Linked DNA regions of Homo sapiens. The protein of the gene in region 1 interacts with the protein of each later gene in a pairwise test. Each region holds a gene or a part of one and is shown on either strand. Other genes may lie near its edges.

Region 1 (7,026 bases):
AAAGCTTTGAAAGCCACCATCATTATGAGATAAATTATATAATAGTACTTTACATAGGCTCCAAAATACAGCACAGACACAGCTATCATTGTCATGGTCATCATTATCATCATGATCACCAACTTATGAGGATAAGCAAGAACACCTACTAGAAGTTTCTTTCCATTCAGCAACAAAATTGGTGTCTTTCTAGTCACTCCCTTCCCTGACTGTCACATAGCAGTTCACAGAGGCTCAGTTGCAGAATGAGAAGCTCTGGGCCAGGACCTGCCATTGTATGCATCCTTGCATGGGAACTGGGGGCTGGAAGAGGAGTGACTGCTTGATAATTATGAGTCAGTCAAAACCACCAACTGTCTGAAAAAAATAGGCCTTTTTGTAACTAGTATTGTCACTAAACCAACTCCTCCATGTTTTGTGCATACATGAAATCTAGGCAATACACTTGTATTCCCAAAAGCTTCCACTTGAAGAGATCTGTGCTCTTTCCAAATATAAACCTTACCCGAGAGGTGGTCATCTTGGCCACACCTCAGAGAGGGAGAGAGGCAGTCTTGTTGGGTTGGGTGGTCATAATGGGGCTCAGGGCCAAATCCCCAGGGGGTAGGATAGTGCAGAGAAGATGGCACTCTCCAGTGCTTAATAAAATGCACGTGGTCTAAGCTGCCCACTCCCTCAAAGGCAATAAAAAATAGGTACTATTTAAATTGAAGAGTAACTACTGCCCCAGGGAATGGACAGGTTGTCATTGGAATAGCCATGGTTAATGGTCCCAGTTGACAACTGAAATGAATGTGCTACCTGAACAGGAAAGCTTATTAACCAGATTTCAAAGACAGTCTTTCCCGGTAAATCCAAATTTACAAATTAAAGCCAGTAAAGACACCGAATTCTCTAATAATATGTGGGGTGCAGTATATTTTAGAGCTGGGAATAATTCCAAACAGCAAATAGTTCAAAATTTATTTTCAATTTAGCATATGCATGCATTTGCTTAAACTGTCTTAAAAATGAGTAAAAAATACTGTCAGTTTGTTTCAATCATACTGAGATGAGGAACAATGTTTAGCATTGCATGCTAGAAAAGGACACAGGATTGGGAGTCAGGGCTGGGTGACCGTCACAGGACTTTCACTAACTGTGTGGATCTTGGGCAAGTCTGTGTGCCCTGAGACTCAGTTATTTAACTTTCTTTTAAAAAACATAGTCCAGATGCAGATAACAAAGCCTGCCTCTAATTTCCCTTACAGAATTGTGAGAAGCTGGTGGAGATGTTTGTTACAAAAGTGTTTTGAAAATAGAGCAAATATTATTCTTTTTAAGGCATGATGTTTTCATAGCATGTCAGGCAACAGGAAAAAACTAAGTTAGGATTTTATTTTATTGTGGGGAATTTATGTGCAAATTATTGTGCAATTTAATGAAAATAAGCCAATGTTTTATACAGAAGTACCCAGAAAATTAAATAACACTATACATTGTTCAAATAGTTGCCTTAATATATTTTATTTTCTCAGCATAATTAGAGTTGTATTATACAGGTCTTTGAGTAGTCAGTCAGTGGGAGAAGTTAAGACAACAGATATCTTTTTATTAAAATTATTATATGAATTATCGCAAATTAATTTTTATGGTTCTGTCACAGGATGTCTGACTCAACTCTATGAAAACGCCTTCTTCAGAGGTGGGGATGTAGCTTCCATGTACACCCCAAATGCCCAATACTGCCAGATGAGGTGCACATTCCACCCAAGGTGTTTGCTATTCAGTTTTCTTCCAGCAAGTTCAATCAATGACATGGAGAAAAGGTAAAAGTTGGTATTTCATTATTGGAGAAGCTGTTTTTCAAAACTGAATCAGTTTTGTGCAGAAAGGTGTAGTATAACTGAGAGTTCTTCCTCACACGGGGTTCAAGGACCAGCTTCAGCAAAATCCCGTCAAGTGGTTCTTACAAATGCAGATTCCTAGGCCACAACCCAGATCTGCTGAACCAAAGTTTCTTGTGACCAGGAATCTGCATTTTAAACAATCACTGTGTTTCTTTAAAGTAGTAGAAGCTAGTCATTTTCTATTCAAAGCCTCAAAATGCTTGAATATCATTGGGCTAAGGGATTGTCTCAAGAAAGAGTCTAACAGGTGCACATTTCATCTGAATAAAGAAACAGATTTAACTGTGTGACCCATGATCACATTAGCGGATAGCACAGTCCAAAGAAAATAACATAAGACAAGCATTTTGCTGAGAATGTAATTGAGAAAGATCTAGAACTTGTGATTTTGGGACAGGGCAGTTCTAAATGGGGCCTATAGTGAGCCAGTTTGGGCACCTGTGGCATGATGCTATGTATGGTGTGTGTGTGTATGTGTGCTTGTGCTTGTGTGAATATGTATTATTAACTGGAAATTTGTAAAAGTATTGGAAAAATAGTACTTACGATTTTGTGTGTGTGTGTGATGGAGTCTCGCTTTGTAGCCCAGGCTGGAGTGCAGTGGCGTGATCTCGGCTCACTGCAACTTCCACCTCCCAGGTTCAAGCGATTCTCCTGCCTCAGCCTCCCAAGTAGCTGGGATTACAGGCACGCACCACCACGTCCAGCTAATTTTTGTAGTTTTAGTAGAGACGGGGTTTCACCACATTGGCCAGGCTGGCCTTGAACTCCTGACCTCGTGATCCACCTGCCTCTACCTCCTAATGTGCTGGGATTACAGGCATGAGCCACCGCACCCAGCGGTAATTACAATTTTTATTAGGTCAGAGAGATGCTTATTAATCACGAGCCACAGTTTCATCTTAATGATTTTTCCTTTTGATTAATATCCAGAGTAAGCTTTTCTTTGTTGTTCCCATTTCCATGTTCATAACTCTTTACTCATCTTCACTCTATGTGAGTTTACCAACTAGAAATTGGATAGTCATTCTCTGATCCCACATGTTAAACTTGTAGAGAAAACTCAGATTGTATGTGAGGATCATCATATTAAAAGTGGAGGAAGGTTCTAGAATTCTTATAAATAATGAAATTAACATGAAGGTGGACATCTAAGACAGAGGGAAGTCTTCCATTAAGTGCAGACTACAAGGAGTTAATAAGCAAGATGAACACGATATACAAATCCAGCTCTTATCACTAAGTTAACTTTTTAAGTAAATGAAAGTATTTGCAAAAATAATTACCAATTGAGAACATAGTTGCCTGAAAGTTTAAGAACACAGGAAAAATCATTAACTCTTTAATATGGTTGATTTCCTGTACTTAAAAAATGTGAGTGTAAAGAAAACGCAGTGATGGAGTTAGATATTATGGGGTGTTATAAAATTAGCTCTAAGAGTGTTCTTTCCAGCAAGTATTGGGGAAGCTATATTATTTTCCTTATTCCTGGTTTTATTTGTTAGTGTGTAGAAAATGCTAGACATTTCCTCAATGTATGTTTATTATTCTACTTCCTAAGTAAAGCTACTTTTAAAATAGGTTTGGTTGCTTCTTGAAAGATAGTGTTACAGGAACCCTGCCAAAAGTACATCGAACAGGTGCAGTTTCTGGACATTCCTTGAAGCAATGTGGTCATCAAATAAGTGGTAAGTTGTGAATTTCTTAGCTACATTTGAGTTAATATTGGATCTCGCTTAGAACAGCTTTTGCTCAAAGTTTGTACTGCTACAGCTTTTTGGAAGGCATCACTCATAAAGATAGGAGATGGGGCAGTATTCTGGACACAAAAGAGGGACCCATATTCATCTGGACACTTCTATTGTCTTTATAAATCAACACATACTTAATGAGCCTCTATTATTTATGAGGTTAGCGCTCAAGTGTAAGATTTGCAGAAAATGAATCCAAATAATTGTGTCTCGTTTCCAGATAAGAATTTTTAAGAAAACACAAGGGAACATCTCTCTCAAGTTCACTTGAGGGTAATTTTTACATCAGTGATTCTCAACCAGCAGTGATTTTGTCTCTTCCACTGGGGACATTTGACAATGTCTGGAGACATTTTTGGTGGCTACAACTAGGGAGGATGCTATTAGCATTTACTAAGTAGAGGCCAGAATGTTTGAATGCTGACCAACATTCTACAAGGCACAGGGCAGTCGTCCACAGCAAATAATTTTCTGGCCCAAAACGTCAACAGTGCTGACATCAAGAAACTCTGTGATATACCACTAGGCCCAAATTGAAGAACTGAGTTCTGCAAATCTTGCTAAGAATAATACTTCCTAAAGGAAACTTGAGGACTAGGATGCTAGAGAACTTTGATTCTGACATCTGAAGCTACTGATGTCTTGGGAAACAGTTTCCAATGCTATCCTAATAAATTTAAGACAAATGAACTATTTCTCAAACATGACTGGGACTGATAAGAAAGTGAAAAGTGCTGAAAAGATTCAACTGATGGGTTGTCAGAATCTTAAAATAACTGCTGTTATTCTATGTATGACTATATATCATTACTATTTTATTTTCATTATGCACAATTAATTTTGTAGGTTCAAATTTCAGATGTTTTTAAATTTGTCATCCTTTCCTCCCTCATTGATATCACCTCTTCAATACGTACACACTTTGAGCCTGCTGTTTGCATTTTAACCAGTTATCAAAGGATGGCAATGCCTTCATTATAAATGTGGGCCTGACTTAGCCAGTATAATAGGTGTAGTCTACGTGAGGTGGAGTACATTTCCTATTTTAAAAGATCAATTTTTATGTTAATCCAATTTGGTATAAATTATTCGAGTAAGTGCTATTTCTGATTGTTGTATCTTGTAGCAAAATTTAAAGAAAAAGTAATTTGTGCCTTTCTCAATATTCCTGTTATTGTTCATGTATTCTAAAACTCACTGTTACTCACTTAGCTTGCTTTTAATGTTTTTTAAAGTGAAAAATTGTTCCCAAGTACATAAAATCTCTACACTCAAGAACAATTCTAGTCAAAAGCATTTAGAGCTTCCGTATGAACACTTAAAGAGTTTTTATTTGTAAGAGTCGCATCCCAACTCTTAGCCTGTTCTTTTCTCACATGCAGAAAAATAGGAAAGAGACTTCGTTTCCACAGTCTGCAAATTCCTGTGTTTAAGAACCACAGTGAATAATCCACCTCCCTGCCCAACTCATCGTACTGTCATATAGTTTTCCTGACAGTTTGTGTATTTTCTGTCTTTCCCACCCTTAAATTTAGTTTTATGACTTCAACCATACTTCTTAGGAGTGGAAAGGTATCTGTAGTAGATTATGGTTTATTCCACATAATCTTGGGGAATAAAACTTTAAAAAAGTATACAGTTTATACTTCTGGTTACATTACTTCCTTAACCAAAAGTCTAACCAAGAAATTTGAATCTTTAAAAAAAAAAGAGGCCGGGCGCGGTGGCTCACGCCTGTAATCCCAGCACTTTGGGAGGCCGAGACGGGCGGATCACGAGGTCAGGAGATCGAGACCATCCTGGCTGACACGGTGAAACCCCGTCTCTACTAAAAATACAAAAATTAGCCGGGCGTGGTGGCGCGCGCCTGTAGTCCCAGCTACTCGGGAGGCTGAGGCAGGAGAATGGCGTGAACCCGGGAGGCGGAGCTTGCAGTGAGTCGAGATCGCGCCACTGCGCTCCAGCCTGGGCGACAGAGCGAGACTCCGTCTCAAAAAAAAAAAAAAAAAAAAGAGCCTAATTTTGCTTCACTGTCTGTGAAAAGAATTATCTGTATCTTTTGCATGTAAGACAAATCTCAATGAAAAGGGTGCTTAAATAGAAGTTAACACTATTTTAAAGCAAGAATGGAAGTGGTTTCATCATGCGTAAACAACAACTCTCCACATTTTGTAATGATTGATCTGGATGCAATTTGTCATCAGACAGGAGAAGTCGAAAGCAAAGAAATAACACTGGGAGATAGAGAAGCTCTTTCATTCAATGCGAAAGGTCAAAGGCACATCAGTTTCTTTAATAATGCAAACCTCAGCACACATTATCAGTGTCCTCATTATTATTGCCTTGTTTATTTCCCACTGCTCATTGATAATTTCAACGTGAAATTTACCTGTATTGCTGCATGCATCTTGCAGTTTAAGAAGTGAAGTAACCCAATTTCAAAGCTAGTGCTTTAGGGAAAATATTGGATTGTATTTACTTCAAGCAGAGTTCGATAATTTATGTACATAATAAAAATTTTAAATCCCTTAGTTAATATAGCAGTTGCCAAAACTGGGCTATTATCATTCTAAACTACCAACCCAAATGGTAGTGGGTATCTAATCTACCTCTAGAAAGAAAATGGACTGTATTTGCTCTATGTATTTTTCTTGTACAGCTTGCCATCGAGACATTTATAAAGGAGTTGATATGAGAGGAGTCAATTTTAATGTGTCTAAGGTTAGCAGTGTTGAAGAATGCCAAAAAAGGTGCACCAGTAACATTCGCTGCCAGTTTTTTTCATATGCCACGCAAACATTTCACAAGGCAGAGTACCGGTGAGTACAATTCAAGGTGTGTGTTCTTTGTATTGGTGCCTCCAGGATTTCACTGTATTCTTCTTAACCTCTTTTGTTCCCAAACTAAAAACCAAACAGGGCTTTTATTCTAACCACTTTCCTCATTTACTTACTCTATTTTATTTTTTTATCTTTTATTTATTTATTTATTTATTGAGATGGAGTCGCGCTCTGTCGCCCAGGCTAGAGTGCAGTGGCGTAATCTCGACTCACTACAACCTCCGCTTCCCGGGTTCAAGCGATTCTCCTGCCTCAGCCTCCCGAGTAGCTGGGATTACAGGCGTCCGCCACCATGCCTGGCTAATTTTTGTATTTTTAGTAGAGTCGGGGTTTTACTATGTTGGTCAGGCTGGTCTCGAACTCCTGATCTTGTGATCCACCCACCTCAGCCTCCCAAAGCGCTGGGATTACAGGCATGAGCCACTGCGCCTCGCCCTTCATTTTTTAATTAAATAATTCATTTAATTTCATTTGTTTCTCTACTCTTTTCCCCTGGCATGTAATTGTACCGCATCTTCAAAGCCTGACATCCTCTTCCCCTACTTC
Region 2 (7,026 bases), on another chromosome or scaffold:
CCAGATTTTATATTTCTAAAGAAATATTTCACCGAAATTAGTAGGCTACAATAGAAATGCTGATTTTTCAATTCTACCATGTACAGCCAGTAAAAACAATAACACACCACTATCTCCTGTCACCATCATTTCATTTAACAAAAGGATATTTCCATTCAAACAATTTGAAAGAACAGAATCTCTCAGAATAAAATATTTTTAAATGGAATCATTTAGCTATATGGAAAAGTTTACTTTCAGACCAGCCTGGCCAACATGCTGAAACCCCGTCTCTACTAAAAATACAAAACAAGCTGGGCGTGGTAGCATGCACCTGTAATCCCAGCTACTCGGGAGGCTGAGGCAGGAGAATCACTTGAACCTGGGATGCAGAGGTTGCAGTAAGCCAAGATCGCGCCATTGCACTCCAGCCTGTGTGACAGAACGAGACTCTGTCTTTAAAAAAAAAAAAAAAAAGTTTACTTTCGTGTCCTTACTTTTTCCCATTTTCCCATAAATCGGTGAAAACTCTGCTGCAAACCTGCACCAGCCTGCCAGCTAACATTCAGTTAGCAGTCCCTGCCCCCTTGGTTTGGTACACTGAGCTCAAATCTAAGGGATCTGGGTGGGCTTCCACCTCTCCCAGTTCTTAGGCTTGTGGCCTTATCTTCATGGTGCCTCAGTTTCTTATGTTAAATAGGGCTTTTAACACCTACTTAGGGCCTGGTGCAGTGGCTCACACCTGTAATCCCAGCAGTTTGGGACGCTGACACCTGGCAGACCTCTTGAGCTCAGGAGTTTCAGACCAGCCTGGGCAACAGGGCAAAACCGTGTCTTTACAAAAAATACAAACGTTAACCGGGCATGGTGGCGCATGCCTGTATTTCCAGCTTCTTGGGAGGCTGAGGTGTGAGGATCACTTGAGCCTGAGAGGCTGAGGTCTGCAGTGAGCCATGATGGTGCCACTGCACTCCAGCCTGGGTGGTAGAGAGAGACCCTGTCTCAAAAAAAGAAAAACAAAAAAACCTACTTTGCCAGATTAGTGTTACGATGAAAAGTGATACATGTATGTTCCTGAAATAAAGCCTGTCCTCAGTTATAGCTGTTACCATTGATTGGAGATGTTCTTTTTTTTCCAGTGTTTGATAATAAATGCCTTTAAGTATAAGTTTCTTGTACATACTTGTTTATATGTTTAAACATTAATTGTTTTAATGTAGTTTATTGCTGACTTTATAGCATAGTATAAAGATGTGTTCATTTAAAACAATTTTGAAGTTGTGCAAGAGAAACTAATGCAGAATATTCTTTTTTTTTTTTTTGATGGAGTCTCGCTGCTCTGTCACCCGGACTGGAGTGCAGTGGCATGATCTCAGCTCACTGCAACCTCCACCTCCCGGGTTCAAGCGATTCTCCTACCTCAGCCTCCCAAGGAGCTGGGATTACAGGTGCCCACCACCATGCCCGGCTAATTTTTGTATTTTTAGTAGAGACAGGGTCTTGCCATGTTGGCCAGGCTGGTCTTAAACTCCTGACCTCAGGTGATCTGCCTGCCTCAGCCTCCGAAAGTGCTGAGATTATAGGCATCAGCCACCGTGTCCAGCTGTAATATGCAGAATATTCTATGTAGGTATTTTCTATATATAAGACCCCCTCTAAGAAGGGTTTCTATGTAAGAATAGTACAAATGATCTGGAAAGGTTAATAGGCTTGACAAATCTATGTTTCTTAAAACTGTAAAAATAGTCTGGTTGTCCTATGGTCTATGTATAGAACATATACCATAGGGGATTGGTTTCAGGACCCCTGTTTTTACTGAGATCCTGGCATACTCAAGTCCCCACTGTGGGCCCTGCAGAACCTGAATGTGAAAATTTGGGCCTCCATATATGCAGGTTTCGGTCTGCATTTGGTTGAAAAAGATCCACGTATAAGTGAGCACACACAGCTTAAACCCGTGTTGTTCAAGGGTCCACTGCATTTGAAAATCAAGTCCATAAAAAAGTTGCCTTATTTTACAAAATGTCGGATTACTACCTCTCCCATATCTTAAAAAAAAAGTACCATCTATTTACTACCCCATTGAGATAATAAAACTTTTAGAATTAGAATAGAACCTAGGGCTGGGCATAGTGGTTCACGCCTGTAATCCCAGCACTTTGGGAGGCTGAGGTGGGTGGATCACCTGAGTTCAGGAGTTTGAGACCAGCCTGGCCAATATGGTGAAACCCCTTGTCTACTAAAAATACAAAAAATTAGCCGGGCATGGTGGTGGGCACCTGTAATTCCAGCTACTCGGGAGGCTGAGGCAGGAGAATCACTTGAACCCGGGAGGTGGAGGTAGCAGTAAGCCGAGATTGTGCCACTGCCCTCCTGCCTGGGCAATAAGAGGGAAACTCTGTCTTACAAAAAAAAAAAAGAACCTAGAAGTATTTACTGCTCTTTGCTTTGTCTGAGACTCAGAGGTTAAGTGACTTGCCCAAGATAGCACAGGTAGTAGCAAATTGAGACTTGACACCTGGCTTCCAGAGTACTTATTTAAAGTCCCCTTTGCACCCCCATTTTAAAAATTAAATTCTTGGCTGGACGCAGTGGCTCACGCCTGTAATCTCAGCACTTTGGGAGGCCGAGGTGGGCGGATCACGAGGTCGGGAGATCAAGACCATCCTGGCTAACATGGTGAAACCCCGTCTCTACTAAAAATACAAAAAAAATTAGCCAGACATGGTGGCACACGCCTGTAGTCCCAGCTACTTGAGAGGGGCTGAGGCAGGAGAATCACTTGAACCCGGGAGGTGGAGGTTGTGGTGAGCTGAGGTCGTGCCACTGCACTCCAGACTGGGTGACAGAGTGAGACTCTGTCTCAAAAAAAAAGAAAAATTAAATTCTTGTCTAGGTAAGGCATTCGCTGCTTCGGATTTGAAAGATAACAAAGCATGTACAGTGAAAAGTCTCCTTCATATCCCTTCCACCAGACAGTTCTCCCGCTCAGTAGACCGCTGTGAAACTTTTCAGAGCCGTTTGACACATAGACAAACATCCACGTGACCATATGATTCCTCCCTTTTTTTAACATGGAAGTATCACGTATGCATCCTTATTGATAGCCTGCTTTTTGCTTGGCATTCGTTCCATTGCTCCCATACTTTAAATGCTTATGTTCATATTTAGTGAAATGTTAATAACTGCTAGTACGTAAAAGAGAATTTGTTCTAGTAGTTTTGACTAACCAAGATAAATTTCAGAAATAAAATTCTTAACATTATCATTGTTTCTTGGTATGGAAATTTCAGAAGCAGGTTGAACTGAAAAGAGTCCAAGAGGAATAGAGAAATATCACAAGGAAGTGAATCTGGACTGTAGTAGAGATAAATGTTAATACTTACAGATAATGCTTACTATGTGCTAGGCAGTGTTCTAAATGTTTTGCATACATTATTGAAGTCTCTCAAGAGTCCCATGAGGCAGGTAGCTTTTATCACCATTTTACACATGAGAAAACTGAGCAACGCAGACTAACACTTGATCCAGGTAGTACAGTGGCAGAGGCCTGATTCTAACCCAGGCAGTCTGGCTCAAGAGTCCAAGCTCTTTACCACTACTCTTTCGTCTTCCTTTCTTCCTTTCCCTCCCACCCTCCTTCTTCCTTTCCTTTCTTTTCTCTCTTTCTTTTCCTTCCTTCTTTTCTTTCTTTTTCCTTCCTTCCTTCCTTTTCTTTATTTTTCCTTCTTCCTTCCTCCTTCGTTCCTTGCTTCCTTCTTTCCTTTTCTTTTTCTTTCCTTTCCTTTTTTTTTCTTTCCTTTCTTTTCTTTCTTCTTTAACTTTTTGAGACATTGTCTCACTCTGTCTCCCCAGGCTGAGTGCAGTGGTGCAGTCATGGCTCACTGCAGCCTCAACCTCCCTGGGTCAAGTGATCCTCCAACCTCAGCTTCCTGAGTAGCTGGGTCTACAGTTGCACACCCCACCATGCCTAGCTAATTTTTTCTATTTTTCATAGTGACGAGGTCTCACTTTGTTGCCTGAGTTGGTCTCAAACTCCTGGCCTCAAGCAGTCTTCCCACTTGGCCTCCCAAAGTGCTGAGATTACAGGTGTGAGCCACCACGCCCAGCCTTTTACCACTACTTTAAATTCCATTTAGATCTAATATTGATAGAGTGATAACCATATCAACCAGATTTTTTAAATATGCAAACAATGGTGCCAGTTTCTGTATCTATGTGACAAAAATATATAGAGTTTGTGGTATCACTTTTACCTGTTTAGAGCACTCTTTGGAAAGGCAGGGAAATTACTGTGAAGGTATTGGTATTCCAGAAGTAAGTTCCTGGAGTGTTTGCCTTCTAAGGTGTGAGGACGTGGTTTGTCACACCCAGTTAACTAACAGATAGACGGTGTAGTGAGCTGTCCGGAAGACTTAGCAGGTTAGCCTAGGGAGGAAGGAGAAAGGGGTTCTGGGCACATGGAGGGAGGGGGAGGGAAAAGAGTTTGTTTGAATCTGTCCTAGATTGGGGTAGCTTTTTCGGAGGGAGGCCTTGTCGTGTGGACCTGCTGCATATAAAGACAGGAGAATTGGACCTGAGGTGTGGTGCTAGCTAAAGCGCCACACAGATCTGGGAATTTAAGAGGAGTTCATTTCCTCAATCATTAGGAAGAACTTGAAAGGGTAGCAAACTGTGGTCATTTGAGAAGAACAGCAAGTGGTCATATTTGAATGTAACATATTCAACTGGGTTGGGAAAGAACCAGAATCTAGATCTTGCCCATAGCAAGTGCAAAACCAGGCGTTCTTATAAACCATGTACTCTTGTAAACACTGATAAGACATAGCACTGAGTCCTGAGCTTTTCTTCTATAAAGTTATTGTACAGGTTGAGGATCCCTAATCCGAAAATCCAAAATCTGAAATGCCCCTGTGAGCATTTCCGTTGAGTGTCATTGGCACTCAAAGTTTTGGATTTTGGACCATTTCAGATTTTGAACTTTCAGATTTGGGATGCTCAACCGGTATATAATGCACATATTCCCAAATCTGAAAAAATCCCAAATCCAAAGCATTTCAGCTCCAAAGTGTTTCAGATAAGGAATATTCAACCTGTACTACATTGTACTAGGCTTGTATTAGATTCCCAGTTTTCAAAATTTGTATCTCAGAATCCCTGTTCTCTGTCAATGAAACAGGGATTTCATACACCTTTGATTCACATTTTAATGTTTTAAGTTTAAAATATTATAAATGTTTATACACAGTCAAATGAATCTCATGCTAAATTTTAATATATTAGAGACAACTGATTTGTCTGCCAGGTTATCTCAAGAGAGTTAATACTGAGTGAAAACAAGTGAGAACCCTAAAAGATTACATACTGTATGATTGCATTTATGTAACATTATTGAAATAACAAACCTGCAGAGATGGAGAACAGATTTAGTGGTTGCTAGGAGTTAGGAATGGGAGGTGAGGGGTGGTGTGGTTATAAAGTGGTAGCATGAGGGAGCTGTGTAGGGATGGAACAGTTCAATGTCTCAGGTGTGATTATACAAAGCTGCAAATGTGATAAAAACTTCATACAACCACACACACACATACTGCATATAAATCCTAGCGTACTCAAGTCCCATTTTGCATACAAAACTGGTGAAACCTGAATAAACTCAGGATTGGAGGAATTTGGGCGAGGGTACTTGGGACCTCCCTGTGTACTTTTTTGTAAATTCCTGTGATTTATAATTATAGTAATTTTAAAATAAAAAGTTGGCCAGGCACAGTGGCTCATGCCTGTAATCCCAGCACTTTGGGAGGCTGAGGCGGATGTATCACGTGAGGTCAGGAGTTCAAGACCAGCTTGGCCAACATGGTGAAACCCCATCTCTACTAAAAATACAAAAATTAGCCGGGCATGGTAGTGGGTGCCTGTAGTCTGAGCTACCTGGGAGGCTGAGGCAGGAGAATCACTTGAACCTGGGAGGCAGAGGTTGCAGTGAGCTGAGATCATGCCACTGCACTCCAGCCTGAGCGACAGAGCAAACTCTGTCTCAAGAAAATAAAATAAAATAGACTGGGTGTAGTGGCTCACGCCTGTAACCCCAGCACTTTGGGAGACTGAGGCGGGTGGATCACCTGAGGTCGGGAGTTGGAGACCAGCCTGACCAACATGGTGAAACCCCATCTCTACTAAAAATACAAAATTAGTCGGGCATGGTGGTGCATGCCTGTAATCTCAGCTACTCGGGAGGCTGAGACAGGAGAGTTGCTTGAACCCAGGAGGCAGAGGTTGCAGTGAGCCAAGATCACGCCATTGCACTCCAGCCTGGGCAACAAGAGTGAAACTCCGTCTGAAAAATAAAATAAAATAAAATAAAAAGTAAAAAAGCAAAAAAAAAAAAAAAGTGCATTTAGAATATTTGAGAGAAAATAAGCAAAAGGAAGAAAATGTAAATTATCTATAATGCTTACACCCAGGACAATAATCCTTGGAATAGAGTGTCTCACTTTGTGTATAGAAATGAAACTTTTAAAATGCCATTTTATTTTTTAATTAAAATTTTTTCTTTCCTTTTTTTTCCTCCTCAGAGTTAGAAAGGATAAAAATGTTATTGATTAGTAAGACTGTAGCTTTATGTTGATATTTTGAAATTTTAGGCTAGTGCTTGTTTGTTCATGTAACATATAAGCACATTCAGTACTATTAGAACTGTTGCATTATGCAATAACATGACTGCCTAATGCATATATCAGGATTAGTACATATTGTAAAGTTTTTATTTTTTACCAAAATGTTTACGACTACCAAGTATTCATTCCTTAACACTATTACATAATTAATTTAGAAATGTTTTACTTTTAAAACTTCTGGACAGGTGTAATTAAATCCTTAGATAGCGTTAATGTACTATTTAAAAAACACACACAAAACATTATCATTGGCAAAACATGCTTTATCATCTATTCATCTTTGTGAATCCGGTTTTTCTTGATACCATGCCATCAAAACAAAACAAATTTGACATAAGACTGCCCAATCATCCATAATTTAAAGTTGGTGTTC
Region 3 (7,295 bases), on another chromosome or scaffold:
GTCATATCTTTGACACTATTGAAGAGGACTGGCCTATTATTTTGCAGAGTATCTGATTTTGGGTCATTTCATGTGTTCTCATGATTAGATTCAGGTTATGCATTTTTGGCATGAATTCCATAGAAGGGCTGTTACGGTTCTCAGTTCACGGTATTAGAAGGCACTTGATAGTGATTAGTTCCATTCCTGATGATGTTAACTCTGATCATTTGGATAAAGTGGCGTCTGCCAGGTTTCCCTACTGTGCAGTTACAATTTGCTTTTTGTAATTAATAAAGTGTGTGTGTGTGTGTGTGTGGAGGGGGGGTGTTTTTGCTTCTGAACGCATAATATTTGAGATTTTTTTCTAATTAAAAAGTAATTATTCAAAGAGTTCAGAGAACTGATACTGATCACATTCTTTGACCCCACATGCAAATACATTATAAACTAGTAATAAAACGGTAACTAGAAAAATGTTCATATCTTTTGGAATTAAAAAAGTGTTTAACTCGTGGATCAAAGCAGAAATTCTGTAACCATTGTCACAGCAGGTTCTAACAAGCAAGTTTAAGGAGGAGAGAATTTCAGTCCTAGAGAATTTCAGTCTTATTCAAATGCTTTCCTAGAAAGAGGAAACAGTTCCTAACTAATTTCATGAGGCTGGCATAATCTTGATAACAAGTCTGATAGGTAAAGTATGAAAGGAAAATTGCAGGTCACTCAATTATCACTCAAATATCTACATGAAAAATTCTAAACAAAATTTTAGCAAACAAAATCCAACAATTTGTAAAAGTGATAATACACCACGACCAAGGTGGTTCAAGTCAGGAATTCAACGTTGATTTTGGCGTTAAAAAATCAATCATCAGGCCCAGTGAGGTGGCTCACTCCTGTAATCCCAGACTTTCTGGAGGCTGAAGGAGGAAAGATCCTTCAGGCCAGAAGTTTGAGTCTGCACTGAGCTGTGACTGCATCACCGCACTCTAGCCTGGGTGCCAGTTTGAGACCCTGTCTCCAAGAAAAAAAAATTAATCAGTGTAATTCACCACAGATTAAGAGTTCAAAAGAGAAAAATCACATGATCATCTGAATAGAGGAAAAAGCTTTTGATAAAGTTCAACATCCATTCATAATAAGGACTCTCAGCAACTTAGAAGTATAAAAACACTTTTGGAAATCAACAAAGGGAATTTACAGCATGAACAAACAGCAAGCCAGCATGGTGGCTCACACCTGTAATCTCAGCACTTCCAGAGGCCAAGGCAGGAGAATCACTTGAGCCCAGGGGTTAGAGACAAGCCTTGGCAACATAGCAAGATCCTGGCTCTACAAAAAATAAAATAAAATGAAATAAAATTTAAAAATTAGCTGGGTTTGGTGGTGTGTGCCTGTAGTCCCAGCTACTGGGAGGCTGAGGTGAGAGGATCACTGGAGCCCAGGAGGTGAAGGCTGCAGTGGGCTAAAAACAACCAGAACAACCCCCCAACCCCCTCCCCGCAAAACACTATAAAGAATAGCAACACAAGGTTCAATGTAAACTTTGATATGGTGTTTTACCTCTGAGGAGAGGCTTATTGTTAATATTCTTTAGCCGTGTAAGGGGTTCACAGATGTTCATACTTTTGTTCTTTATACCTTATATGTATTCTATAAATATTGTTTCTACTCAATAGTTAATAAAAACATAATTTAAAAGTTCTGTGAATGTTTTTACTCTGCTCACTTTTGAGGGGCCTTTTGGGATATGCATTTTCTATTCCAAGTTGATCTGATATGTCATGCCTGCCACACACATTCCCATGGGAACAACTTCTTAATGTCTTTTGTTTCTGCCTTGGAAGCCATCCTGGTGCTCTGGGAAAATCCCTGCACTAGCATTTTCTTTTTCTTTTCTTTTCTTTTTTTTCTTTTTCTTTTTTTGAGATAGAATCCCTTGCTCTGTCTTTCAGGATGGAGTGCAGCCGTGTGATCTTGGCTCACTGCAACCTCTGCCTCCATCCAAGCGATTCTCATGCCTCAGCGCCCCCACACCCTCCCCAGTCCACCACAGTAGTTGGGACTACCAAGGCGCGCACGACTATGCCCTCTCACCATATTGCCCTGGCTGGTCTCCAACTCCTGAGCTCAGGCAATCCACCCACTTCGGCCTCCCAAAGTGCTGGGATTATAGACGTGAGCCACCGCACCCGGCCTGCGCTAGCTTTTTTTCTTTGTTTCTTTCTCTTTCTTTCTTTCTTTTTCTTTCTCTCTCTCTCTCTTCTTTCTTTTTTTCTTTCCCTCCCTCCCTCCCTTCCTTTCTCTCTTCTCTCCCTTCCTTCCTTCCTTCCTTCCTTCCTTCCTTTCCTTCCTTCCTTCCTCTTTCTTTCTTTCTTTCTTTCTTTCTTTCCCTTCCTTCCTTCCTTCCTTCCTTCCTTCCTTCCTTCCTTCCTTTCTCTCTCTCTCTCTTTCTTTCTTTCTTTCTTCTTTCCTTTTTTTTCCCCGAGACAGAGTTTTGCTCTTGTTGCCCAGGCTGCAGTGCAGTGGCATGATCTCAGCACACTGCAACCTCCGCTTCCCAGGTTCAACTGATTCTCCTGCCTCTGCCTCCCTAGTAGCTGGGATTACAGGGGTCTGCCACCACGCCCGGCTAATTTTTTTTGTATTTTTAGTGGAGACGGGGGTTTCACTACGTTGGCTGGGCTGGTCTCGAACTCTTGACTTCAGGTGATCCACCCACCTCGGCCTCCCAAAGTCCTGGAATTATGGGCATGAGCCACTGCTCCCAGCCGGCACTAGCATTTTCTAAGCCAATGACTGAAGAATAGTTTTTTAACTTCGGTGAGACTGTATCCATAGAGCTGGCGTCTGGATCAGATGAGAAGAAGAAAAGCGCAGCTATGTGCTTTCAATATATACGTTATTTAATGTGAATAGGTACTCTTCCTAGGTACCTTAAGATTTTAGAATAGGCAGTAGGCAGTTAATGCAGTCCAGAGTGGGGTAGGTGGAGCTTGCGGAGAAGGAGCAACTCAGACTTGCACATTCCCCTGTGATGAGTCATCGTGGCCTGTGTGCATTTCAAAAGCTATGTACTGAGACACCAATTCTTAGACAAGTTAGCAGGAAAAACATGTATTACCATAATTATCATAATAAGGGGGCTAAAGGAAAGCAAAGTGGCAGGAGGACTGTATCCGGCCAGACTAGCCTTTGGAGCATCCCAATAAAGGAATCTCCCAAATGGCCCCAAGATGCTCCCTACACTGCCAGGGGTAGGTATTTGAATCTGTCTGTCCTGGAGCAATCCGCTCCTTGCACCTTTGTCCTCTCCTGTCCATCCACAGCTGCCCTGGCCTGGTTCCTGGGGGCAACCGTGCTTTTAAGCAAGGGGGCAGCAGTGCTGCTCTGGGAATGCGAGTACAGCTGGAAAGGTTGAGTCACCCCTTTAGGGGCATGGTAAGAATGCCTGGTATTTCTTCAATTTTGATGAACCAAAATAGTGACAATTGCCCAAAGGCGCAGAGTCGATAATAAAGAGTGCGGACACTTCCGGAGCGCCAGCTGCCCAATAGAAATGCAGGCCACGCTGGGGAAGTGTGGAGCCGCAGCCCAGGATGGGGAGGGCCGGAAAACAGAAAAGGATTCGCGTTCTTTTTACTCTGTGGAGAGTGAGCCCGCGGACTGTAGCCTGGGCCTCGCCAAGTTCCTTTGTTCTTTGTTTTCTTTAAATTACCTTTTTTCTTTTTGTCTTAAAAAATACACATGGGTGAAAAAGAAACGAGAGCTCCCTAGAGATCACTCAGAGCTGTTTTCGTGGGTTTTTAACTTCCAGTTGCTCAAGGGTCCACGCTGGCATCTGGGGTGTGCTCGCACCTGCGAAGAATCCAGCTTCTAGGGAGCACCGCGAGCTGGTAAGTTGGTCCTGCTCCATCGCTAAACCTTCCAGCCTTAGTTTTTCATTTCTGGGGAGTCTGCTGGCTCGGGAGGAGGTGGGGCACTGGTAACACAACCCCACCACTCCCGGGAAGATCCCCGCACCCCCATCCCGGTCTGCTTTCTCTCCCTTCTGAAGCAGGAGAATAAGGGTCTGGAGGAAAATCCCAACTTTCCACAAACTTCCTTTGTAGCCCCTCCTTTTCTACATGGCAGATGAAAAACTGAAAATACCTCTGATTGGTCCCCTCCCGCAACCAATCAGACTGGTCTCCAGGGCCAAGTCTTCATGTGCATAGGAATGTAACTTTGTAACTTCGCTTTCTGCGTCCAATCAGATGTTTTCATAGGGCATAACTTTGTAACTTCACTTCAGCCTCCCATTGATCGCTTTCTGCAACCATTCAGACTGATCTCGGGCTCCTATTTCATTTACATTGTGTGCACACCAAGTAACCAGTGGGAAAACTTTAGAGGGTACTTAAACCCCAGAAAATTCTGAAACCGGGCTCTTGAGCCGCTATCCTCGGGCCTGCTCCCACCCTGTGGAGTGCACTTTCGTTTTCAATAAATCTCTGCTTTTGTTGCTTCATTCTTTCCTTGCTTTGTTTGTGTGTTTGTCCAGTTCTTTGTTCAACACGCCAAGAACCTGGACACTCTTCACTGGTAACATATTTTGGCAAGCCAACCAGGAGGTAAGCCCAAAGTCTGGGATTTATTTTTCTCCTTTCCCTTTTCCTTTCTGCTCCATACAGGTAAATCTCTCTCTTTCTCTTTTCCTTTCCAACGTGGGATCCTTGGTGGGTAGCGCCTAGACACGGAGGCGACTGCAGGTTTCTGGCCGGGGGCTACTCTCCAGTGCTGCCTTGAAGGCCAAGGAGTGAATGGGGATAGTTGCCCTGCCCAGAAGCGGGAAGGGCTCTTTTCTGTCTTTTCTGGTTGTGGTCCCTGATCCCTATGTGTGACGCAGCTTCTCCAGGGCGAACTCACACGTGTTTCAGGTGACTTAAACCTTCTTTCCTTATGTTAAATTCTTCCCTTCCCCTACTCTACTGGCTAAGGTTAAAAGAAACCCACCTAGCCTCCATTTCATATCATTAAAGTTCATGACTATCACTCTAGTGGAATGGGAACCATGGGAAAGCATGGCCTTATCAAATTATAAGGATGCTAGAAGTCAAGGCCTTCATCCAGAGACAAAAGGAAAGCTCACAGTAGGCCATCCCCTCTGGAGGGAAAACATGTAAAGTGGCACTGGTGACCACCTAAGGTCAGAGACGTCTGACGCTCTAAGATTGGACCCTAAAGGGGGATGCTCTGGAGGATCCTTTGGACCTCAGCCTCTCCAAGGGGGTTCCTTTGGTAGAGGTTCTTAGGCCTAGTACTAAGCCCTCCTTAGAATTTTCTCTTCCGGTTGCAGTAGTGTTTGGCCTCAATATTGTTTGGAATCTGGAGTTTGCTGTTGAATGGTAAAGTGGGATGGAGTTGCATGTATGCAGGCTCTTGTGCTGCTGTTCTAAGCAGGGTTGTGTCGGGTTAAAGTGTGATGTTCTCCTTTGGTGCTGTTTGGCCTCAGCGTTCTTTGAAGTGCGAGGAAGTTTGACCTTTAAAAATCAAACTGCCATGGAAACCGCTGACTTATAAATTGCTAAAGTTGTTTATAACCAATGTTTGGTTTCTCAAATCCATATTCCTGGGAAGACAATCAAAGCTTCAGGTACATTTGGCTACCCGATGGGCCATTTAAACATTTACAAAGGGATTTTATTCAATGTCACTTTCAATGCATGTTTTCTTGTTGTATAAAAGCTTTTCCCATGATTATGCTACAGTGTATTTTCACCAGGTAAAGAAAGCTTTTTATGGTTCACTGAGAACAATCAACCCCTTCACAACCTAGAACCCATAGGATAGATGTTCTCAGAACATCTACTGTAAAGGCCATAGTTACACAACAGACTTTAAATTCTTTTGTGAAAGTTATGATAGAATTGGCTGAACAGAGAAGTATCTGTGCAGCTGCTGGCACTTAGAGTCTATGGAGAAATACATTAAATGAAGATTAAGAGATTCAGTTGTAGGGGATTAATGAGGAGATTGTTTACTTAAGTTGGTAGATTCTTTATTTAGTTCATTATTTGATCTATTTAATTTTAACTGGTTTGGTTTATGGGAACCCTGGGCAAGGAGCATCCTCCAAACTCTTGGTATTATCCTCCCAATAGTCATCATAATAATAGGCTCCCTGGTGCACTGTATTCTCTCAAAGGTTTTCGATGTTTGCATGCAGCCATCTCTAGAATGTCAAATGGTCTCTCTTCAACTGGAATGATGAGAAGTGAAACAAATATGCGACCATGAGGACACTGTAACCTATGGATGGTGTGCTGAGACTGGAAACCCAAAATGATGGTAACTGAGAGCGGCGCTAAGGCCTTACGTTTTGGTTACATTCTCACCTAAGTGAGAACCTGAACAAAAAGGGGGAATTTTAAAAAACAAAATTGTGAAAGGCCAGTGTTTTGGACTGAGCTCATGGCCCCAACAGACCAAACCAAACCAAAATGGAGTTGCTCATTCTAAGACTTTAAGGAAACACATAGATCCTAGAACAGACCAAGTTTTTGTTTTTCTCCTGCAAACAGAATGTTTCAGTGAGCAGGACACCCTCCACCGGTAACACTTTCCTGTCTCTGTAGCAACTTCTAATAAACTGCAGGCTGTTGAGGACTTCAGAATGGTGGACTTGGAAGCTATAGGTCGGGTGGAACTTTTGCTCCTGCATGGGCTGGGGAGCAGCCCAGAAAATTTAAAGCATTACCAGAAAATTTAAAGAGCTGTGGGGCCAGTGAGCCAGGGATCTGCAGTGTTCAAGCAGAGCTAGAGAGGCAGGGAGGGCAGAGTGCTCTATGGTCAGGCCAGGCTTGGTGGGTGTCCAGACCTCCCAGGGTTATCCATCCTCCTGGAGTCCTGAACATGCAGGGAGTTGGGGAATAGGTTCTTTAGGTGAAATGCGACCAGGCACTGATGAACTGCATTGCTAGATCCTAAAAGAAAAACCAAGCACCCTCATGCCCTGCTGGTTTATTATCTAGAAGGCGGGAAGGATGAGAGCAGTGCTGTCCTGAACTAAATGCAAAGTGACATCCTAGGAGGGCAAAGAGTGTTGCATGATTTTTGTTTCCCAGGAGGTAGCTCTTACAACTTCTGTCCCACCCTGTGGGCAGTTCCTACTAACCTGCTGTTCTGACATAACTCTAAGGAGATCTGAATGCTGTCTCCTTTCCCATTAAAGATAGCCAACAACAAAGCCTAAATAGTGAGTTCAGGTCTGATAGAATTTCCCCTATAGTCAAAAGTATAAAGGATTTCAGTGGAAACATCTAACCTGTAAACCT

Evidence for each region.
Region 2: the proteins of KLKB1 (region 1) and VKORC1L1 interact in binary tests that used the Homo sapiens proteins (3 or more experiments, as listed by UniProt).
Region 3: the proteins of KLKB1 (region 1) and SLFN12 interact in binary tests that used the Homo sapiens proteins (3 or more experiments, as listed by UniProt).

What each region holds. Positions count from the first base shown.
Region 1 is NC_000004.12:186,230,482-186,237,507, forward strand, and holds part of KLKB1 (plasma kallikrein isoform 1 preproprotein), read left to right. Parts: intron 1-1,645; coding exon 1,646-1,808; intron 1,809-3,470; coding exon 3,471-3,577; intron 3,578-6,299; coding exon 6,300-6,459; intron 6,460-7,026. UniProt on the Homo sapiens protein: Participates in the surface-dependent activation of blood coagulation. Activates, in a reciprocal reaction, coagulation factor XII/F12 after binding to negatively charged surfaces.
Region 2 is NC_000007.14:65,876,064-65,883,089, forward strand, and holds part of VKORC1L1 (vitamin K epoxide reductase complex subunit 1-like protein 1), read left to right. Parts: intron 1-7,026. UniProt on the Homo sapiens protein: Involved in vitamin K metabolism. Can reduce inactive vitamin K 2,3-epoxide to active vitamin K, and may contribute to vitamin K-mediated protection against oxidative stress.
Region 3 is NC_000017.11:35,429,485-35,436,779, reverse strand, and holds the start of SLFN12 (ribonuclease SLFN12), read left to right. Parts: upstream 1-4,279; 5' UTR 4,280-4,592; intron 4,593-6,166; exon of another isoform or gene 6,167-6,309; intron 6,310-7,295. UniProt on the Homo sapiens protein: Ribonuclease which is part of an E2/17beta-estradiol-induced pro-apoptotic signaling pathway.